2 linked regions of the Homo sapiens genome follow. The protein of the gene in region 1 purifies or fractionates together with the protein of each later gene. This does not show direct contact. Each region holds a gene or a part of one and is shown in the gene's direction. Other genes may lie near its edges.

What was found.
Region 2: the proteins of CNIH4 (region 1) and TACR3 purify together in Homo sapiens (co-immunoprecipitation; one large-scale study listed by IntAct). This does not show direct contact.

Annotation. Positions count from the first base shown.
Region 1 is NC_000001.11:224,355,376-224,359,843, forward strand, and holds the start of CNIH4 (protein cornichon homolog 4), read left to right. Parts: upstream 1-1,503; 5' UTR 1,504-1,549; coding exon 1,550-1,618; exon of another isoform or gene 1,619-1,668; intron 1,669-1,670; exon of another isoform or gene 1,671-1,693; intron 1,694-4,468. UniProt on the Homo sapiens protein: Involved in G protein-coupled receptors (GPCRs) trafficking from the endoplasmic reticulum to the cell surface; it promotes the exit of GPCRs from the early secretory pathway, likely through interaction with the COPII machinery.
Region 2 is NC_000004.12:103,594,342-103,598,165, reverse strand, and holds part of TACR3 (neuromedin-K receptor), read left to right. Parts: intron 1-3,824. UniProt on the Homo sapiens protein: This is a receptor for the tachykinin neuropeptide neuromedin-K (neurokinin B). It is associated with G proteins that activate a phosphatidylinositol-calcium second messenger system.

The DNA of each region.
Region 1 (4,468 bases):
ACATGAACAGAAAACATGTGCCAATTGATGGCAACGTGTTGAGCCAGAAAGTATTGAGCCTATACAAAGACTTCAGTGAGGGATTCCCTAAAACGAGTGATACCAAGCCACTTACTGCAAGTAATGGATAGTTACATGAATGTAAGAATAGATTTGGACTGAAAAATATAAAAATCACTGGAGAGGCTGCATCTGTCTCTTCATCTTATCACATAGGCATTTTATCATCATACATCATCTCAAAAAGAAGGGTCAGTACAATAAGATATTTTGAGACAGAAAGACCACATTTACATAACTTTTATTACAGTATAATTGTTCTATCTTATTATTACTTGTTAATCTCCTACTGTGCCTGATCTATAAATTAAGCTTTATCATAGGTATGTATATATAGGAAAAAACATAGTACACATAAGGTTTGGTACTATCCATCGTGTCAGGCATCCACTTGGGGGTCTTGGAAAGTAGCCCCTGCAAATACAACTGTATTTGTTAAATGAATGAATGGATGAGTAAGACATCGTATTCACTTCTTAAAGATCTTAAAATCTAGAGAGGAGAGAAACATTGCTGTAGGAGAGGATAAACAAAGGACTGTGAAATCTCTGGAGAAATTGAAATCAGGAAGGGAAGGGCAAATCGCAAAAGTCAAGCCAGGAGCATTAAGTTAGATTTGTGCTTTGAGATGAAAACCCCTTACAAATCCTAAGTCAGGGAATGCAATGGTTCTAGAGCCAACTCTAAAGAAAATTTCACACATGGGAAATACATCCTACTGGATATCCGGATTAAAAGCGTTCAGTAGAGACTGGTGCAGTGGCTCAGGCCTGTAATTCCAGCACTGTGGGAGACTGAGGCAGGCAGATCGCTTGAGCCGAGGAATTCGAGACCAGCCTGGGCAACATGGCAAAAACCCCATCTCTATTAAAAATACAAAAAATTAGCCAGGCGTGGTGGTACATTCCTGTAATCCCAGGTACTCAGGAGGCGGAGGTGGGAGGATCACCTGAGGCCAGGAGGTAGAGGCTGCAGTGAGCTGTGACCATGCCACTGCACTCCAGCCTGGGCGACAGAGTGAGACCCTGTCTCAAAAAATAAAATAAAATGAGAAATAATAAAATAAAATTAGCTGGGCATGTCGGGAGGCTGAGGTGGAAGGATTGCTTGAGCCCAGGAATTCGAGGTCATAGTGAGCTCTATCACGCCACTGCACTCCAGCCTGGACGACAGAGCAAGACCCCAGCTCTTTAAAAGAAAAGCGTTGAGTAAATACTTGTTGATTAATTCCATTTCTGGAAATAATCGGATTTATGAAAGAGGCCCTGCCCACCTCTTTGATATGGACTTGTACTAATGAACTACAATTCCCAGCATGCGTCAGAATTAGGGCCGTAGAGTTTTTTAAAATATGGACTACAACTCCCGGCATGCCACACCAGGATTCGAGGACCACACGCCTCAGCCAGCCCCGGCAAGGGCCTATCAGGGGTGGGTCGGGGCATCCGAGCGGGTTTGACGGAAGGAGCGGCGGCGACGGAGGAGGAGGATGGAGGCGGTGGTGTTCGTCTTCTCTCTCCTCGATTGTTGCGCGCTCATCTTCCTCTCGGTCTACTTCGTATCCTTGCCTGAGGCAGGCGAACGCCTTGCCGGGGGACACGGCTGAGGGTGGGCCAGTTGGGCACCCGGGCAGGTGTGTGGGACTAGGGAGGCGCCCGGCGGCGGGCGTGGGCTCCCTGGGAGCTGGCCTGGCCGGGGCGGTGGCGCGGGCCCCGGAGCGGGTAGGAGAGGCTGGCTGCCCTACCCGACGGGCCCTGCTGCCCTGCACGCACTTGCCCTGCCTGGGTTGCCGGCCGCCCCTCACTCGGGTCCGAGTGGGCCTCTCCGGGCGCGCCCCGTCTCGGCCTGCCCGCCTGCTCTCCGCTCGTCCCCGCGGCGCCCGGACCAGCCCTGCCTGAGCCACGGCCGCCCTCGGGAGAGAAGCGTCGCTGTTTTTCTGGGAGAGGCCCTGCGCCGTGCTCTTCGTCGGATATTGGGGGTCCCAAGGGCGGTCGCTTGCGACAGTCGGGTGCCGGGATAAGTGCGGGCCATTTGCCTCCTCCTGTTCCCCACGCAACACCCCCGGCACCCGCCCCTTTGTTCTGGCGGGTGTTAGTACTTGCAGGGACCTTTCACATCCAGGAGTTGACTCATTCGCCAAAGGAGCGAAGTTGCTTCCTTCACTGTGCCGTTTTGTAGTGAGTGTTGGAAAGGAGTTGTTTTAACAACTGTCTACAAAGTGATTATTTTGGTTGTCCCCGGTGGTTGCAGATCTGTAAATTCAATAACTACATCTGCTGTAGTTCCCAATCGTTTCTCAGCTTTTAAATTTTTCTATCGATCCATGTTAAAACTTAAGTTGCAGTATTCAAACTGTTTTCCAGAGCAATAAATGGTGGTTGAATTTAGCACTGCAGTAGCCATGTCGGCTACAACTCTTCCCATCTCTTGACAAAGCATCTAGGCTTAGTTGTTGCCCAATGTTGTATTGCACCATCCAGGTTTAAGTAATTAAATATAAGAAAAAACGTATGAGGAACTCCGCATTTCAGCTTCCTTTCTTGGAAATCACATGTACCTGTTTCTGATCGGATTAAACCATTTGTTTGCTAGAGCATGCGGGCTTTAGGATAGTCGTACAGAGTATATGTTCAGTGCAGCTTCATTTTTCATTGTGGACTGGCATCCTGTTGTAGTGGAAAGGGACAAAATTTGGAATCAGATTTCCTGGTCAGCTAGCTCTTTGCTTGCACATTATTTCCCTAAGCCTCAGTTTTCTGATCTTTAAAATAGGAAATGTTTATTTCCTAGATATGCACAATGAGAATGGTGCTGAGCACCCTAGCACAGTGCCTGCCCCATAGCTAATGTTCAGTAAATATTGCTCTGCCTTCGTGTCCCCACCCTCCCCAATTGAGCAGCAGTTTTTACTTTGATGATATCTAACGACAAGATTTCTGAGTTTTAGTAGGTTTGGGGAGCTGATTGAAAGGGCAGCATCACTTGCCTAAGTTTTGATGACCTCTATGCCCCTCTTGTGATATAAGGAACTAGAGCAAGCTTGTCCAACCCACGGCCCACGGGCTGCATGTGGTCCAGGACAGCTTTGAATGTGGCCCAACACAAATTTGTAAACTTTCTTAAAACATTATGATTCTTTTTTGGTGATTTTTTTTTAAGTTCATCAGCTATCATTAGTATTAGTGTATTTTATGTGTGGCCCAAGGCAATTCTTCTTCCAGTGTGGCCCAGGGAAGCCAAAAGATTGGACACCCCTGAACTAGAGCTTATGCTCAGAAATGTAGCTGGGTTTTTTCTTTTTGCAGTTTGGAAAACCAGGCTTGATAATTTTAAATAGCCCTGGTTTACACCAATTTATGCATTTAGAGAAATGGTAGGTGGAATGTTTGACTTAGACATTACATTAAAATACATTCGGGGGGTGTTTTGATGAAATTCAGCATATTCTGTATTTTAGAATAGTTGCACTAACTTAGGGATAGGAGGTGGAAAATGGTCACGGTAGACTTAATATAGGATATAAGAGTTTTCTTGGACTTTGAACTGTGGACAAAATCTACAGGAAGGGGAAGAGGTGAATATTCCAAATCAGACACTGGCAAGAGCGAAGGTGCAGAGACAGGTATGTTCGTGGATTTCTGGGCTATGGTTAACGAATAGACCATCTGGAGCACATGGTTGATTTTGGCGTCAGTAGAAGGCTAAGTTGGAAAGGCAGGATTACATCAGATTTTGGAGGGCTTGAATGTTAAGGGTGGGAGGGAAGTCTTTCACTTTTATCCTGCAGGCAATAGAGAGCCATTGAAAATTTTTATTTTCGGTAGTTTATTAGGAAGATGAATCTGCCGAGTGGGTTGGAAACAAGAAAGATTGGAAGATAAACCAACTGGATAGGGTCGTCTGGATTTCAAATAGAGTGCTGGTTGTGGGCAGGTGAAAGGAGGGAATATGTGAGTAGTATTTAGAAGAAATGATTGCCAGGACCTACAAATGAGTGATTATGATATATGAAACAGAAGGCAGAGATAGCTTTCCATATTTTGATCCTGGGCAAGTGATACTTGTGTCAGTAACAGAAATAAAACAAATTGGAGGAAGATCAATCTGTGGAGAAAGTGATGAGTTTGACTTTATTTTATTTTCATGTTTATTTTTGAGACAGAGTCTCACTGTCACCCAGGCTGGAGTGCAGTGGCGCAATCTTGGCTTACTGCTGCCTCCATCTCCTGGGTTCAAGCGATTCTCCTGCCTCAGCCTCTCAAGTAACTGAGACTACAAGTGCCTACCAAATCTGCTGCTCAGACTGGAGCGCACTGGTGTGATTATAGCTCAGTGTAACGTGAATCCTGGGCTCTAGGCATTTTGCTGCCTCACCTTAGCAGTACTGCTACTAATAGCTAGCATTACA
Region 2 (3,824 bases), on another chromosome or scaffold:
ATACCATCTCACACCAGTTAGAATGGTGATCATTAAAAAGTCAGGAAACAACAGGTGCTGGAGAGGATGTGGAGAAATAGGAACACTTTTACACTGTTGGTGGGACTGTAAACTAGTTCAACCACTGTGGAAGTCGGTGTGGCGATTCCTCAGGGATCTAGAACTAGAAATACCATTTGACCTAGCCATCCCATTACTGGGTATATCCCCAAAGGATTATAAATCATGCTGTTATAAAGACACATGCACACGTATGTTTATAGCGGCACTATTCACAATAGCAAAGACTTGGAACCAACTTAAATGTCCAAAAACAATAGACTGAATTAAGAAAATGTGGCACATATACACCATGGAATACTATGCAGCCATAAATTATGATGAGTTCATGTCCTTTGTAGGGACATGGATGAAACTGGAAACCATCATTCTCAGCAAACTATTACAAGGACAAAAAACCAAACTGCATGTTCTCACTCACAGGTGGGAATTGAACAATGAGAACACATGGACACAGGAAGGGGAACATCACACACTGGGGACTCTTGTGGGGTGGGGGGACGGGGGAGGGATAGCATTAGGAGATGTACCTAATGTAAATGACGAGTTAATGGGTGCAGCAGACCAACATGGCACATGTATACATATGTAACAAACCTGCACGTTGTGCACTTGTACCCTAAAACTTAAAGTATAATAATAATAAAATTTAAAAAAAAGGATTCTAATCAAAACAAGCAGTTTTGTTGTGTTTTGTTTTTTGTCACACCAAGCTGACCATTTTTATTCCAAGCATTTAGAAAGAATCAATCTTGTACCAACAGAGAAATGCAAACCAAAACCACAATGAGATATCATCTCACACCAGTTAGAATGGCAATCTTTAAAAAGTCAGGAAACAACAGGTGCTGGAGAGGATGTGGAGAAATAGGAACACTTTTACACTGTTGGTGGGACTGTAAACTAGTTCAACCATTGTGGAAGTCAGTGTGGCAATTCCTCAGGGAACTAGAACTAGAAATACCATTTGACCCAGCCTTCCCATTACTGGGTATATACCCAAAGGATTATAAATTATGCTGCTATAAAGACGCATGCACACATGTGTTTATTGCGGCACTATTCACAATAGCAAAGACTTGGAACCAACCCAAATGTCCAACAATGATAGACTGGATTAAGAAAATGTGGCACATATACACCATGGAATACTATGCAGCCATAAAAAATGATGAGTTCGTGTCCTTTGTAGGGACATGGATGAAGCTGGAAACCATCATTCTCAGCAAACTATCGCAAGGACAAAAAACCAAACTGCATGTTCTCACTCACAGGTGGGAATTGAACAATGAGAACACATGGACACAGGAAGGGGAACATCACACACTGGGGACTCTTGTGGGGTAGGGGGACGGGGGAGGGATAGCATTAGGAGATATACCTAATGTAAATGACGAGTTAATGGGTGCAGCAGACCAACATGGGACATGTATCCATATGTAACAAACCTGCACATTGTGCACATGTACCCTAAAACTTAAAGTATAATAATAATAAAATTTTAAAAAAAGGATTCTAATCAAAACAAGCAGTTTTGTTTTGTTTTGTTTTTTGTCACACCTAGCTGACCATTTTTATTCCAAGCATTTAGAAAGAATCAATCCTGTACCAACAGACAAATGCAAACCAAAACCACAATGAGATATCGTCTCACACCAGTTAGAATGGCAATCTTTAAAAAGTCAGGAAACAACAGGTGCTGGAGAGGATGTGGAGAAATAGGAACACTTTTACACTGTTGGTGGGACTGTAAACTAGTTCAACCATTGTGGAAGTCAGTGTGGCGATTCCTCAGGGATGTAGAACTAGAAATACCATTTGACCCAGCCATCCCATTACTGGGTATATACCCAAAGGATTATAAATTATGCTGCTATAAAGACACATGCACACGTATGTTTATTGCGGCACTATTCACAATAGCAAAGACTTGGAACCACCCCAAATGTCCAACAATGATAGACTGGATTAAGAAAACGTGACACATATACACCATGGAATACTATGCAGCCATAAAAAAGGATGAGTTCATGTCCTTTGTAGGGACATGGATGAAATTGGAAATCATCATTCTCAGTAAACTATCACAAGAACAAAAAACCAAACACCACATATTCTCACTCATAGGTGGGTATTGAACAATGAGAACATATGGACACAGGAAGGGGAACATCACACTCTGGGGACTGTTGTGGGGTGGGGGGAGGGGGGAGGGATAGCATTGGGAGATATACCTAATGCTAGATGATGAGTTAGTGGGTGCAGCACACCAGCATGGCACATGTATACATATGTAACTAACCTGCACATTGTGCACATGTACCCTAAAACTTAAAGTATAATAATAAAAATAAAATAATTAGAAGATAATATTGCCAAAATTAAAAAAAAAAGAATATGACCCCTAGAGTTTTCTAAATAGTTGTCAGCATTTTAGTTAATTTCCTAAACTAATTTTTGCTTTTACAACCCAAACCTCAAAATCATCCATCCTACACTAATTTAATGTAATGAATAAGAACAACTGTAGGCATTTCAGTTCTAATCTGTACGGTATACAAAAATCTAAGATCTTTCCCCTTTGATACATGAAGGAATGGTATCCAAAGTTCATTCTCACTAATATATGAGGACATGCAGTTCCATCCTGCCTACGTAGTTAGATTCTTAACTGCTAAAAATAGGCAATGTAACTTTGTAAGGGCTACATTACATGTCCCCACTTTCCTCCTTTATCCTGCTTGTAAGTTTCCAAGGGTAATGGGTGGCTACCCACTTAATAACATTATTAAGACACGATGAGAGATTTGAACCTTCTCTGTCCCAGATTGTCATCTTGCCTAAAAATCTCAAGAATTTCTTAAAGTTTACCACCTGATTCTTTTTTCTGTTTAACAGTTCATAGCCTGCCTGCACTAGTACCATTGTTCAGCCATGCAATACAGTGGTAACTGCTCATAGCACCTGCACATCTATCATTGCTCAAGCTTCATGCTTCAAAGAGCTCTTTTCTTTGGCATTTTATCAGGAGGGTGATTTCAGTTTTGTGATTTCAGCATTTCACAAAGCAAGACAATTTCTCCCACCCAAGAGCCTACGTTTGCATTCACATCAAAACTAGAGTCCAGAGAGTTCATCATCTGAAATAACACTACAAGATTTTGTAAGCAGAGTGCCAAGGTAACAGTATTATATAGAAATAAGTACAGAAAATATATTATAGCAGCTGTTTCACTTATAAACATTTCTGTAGAGTATTTTAAGCTTTTCTTAAAATTTTTAAAATATGTTTATAAATCTTTCGCAAGAAGTTCTAAAGGCCCTCTGTATGTGAGTTAAAAGCTATCTGAAGTCTCTGTTCCATTTTCCACATGCATTTTAATTTTTGCATGTTTTTCTGAACTTTTTGCACTATGAAAATTGAAATTTATCTAAAAGGACTGATAGCCTTAGTAGGTTTTCAGCAATTGTCGGAAAACAATTTTGTGCATAGGGAGTTTGTAGTCAGTCTGTATAAAAGATTCAAATACAATATATGTTAACATTCTCAAAGATATTTTACTTGCTCTTAACATTTGCTTAGAATGAAATCTAATGCTTTCATGTGCCCCATGAAAATAATTATATTAGGCCGGGTGCAGTGTCTCACACCTGTAATCCCAGAATTTTGGGAGGCCGAGGTGGGTGGATCTACAAGGTCAGGAGTTTGAGACAAGCCTGGCCACTATGGTAACACCCTGTCTCTACTAAAAATACAAAAATTA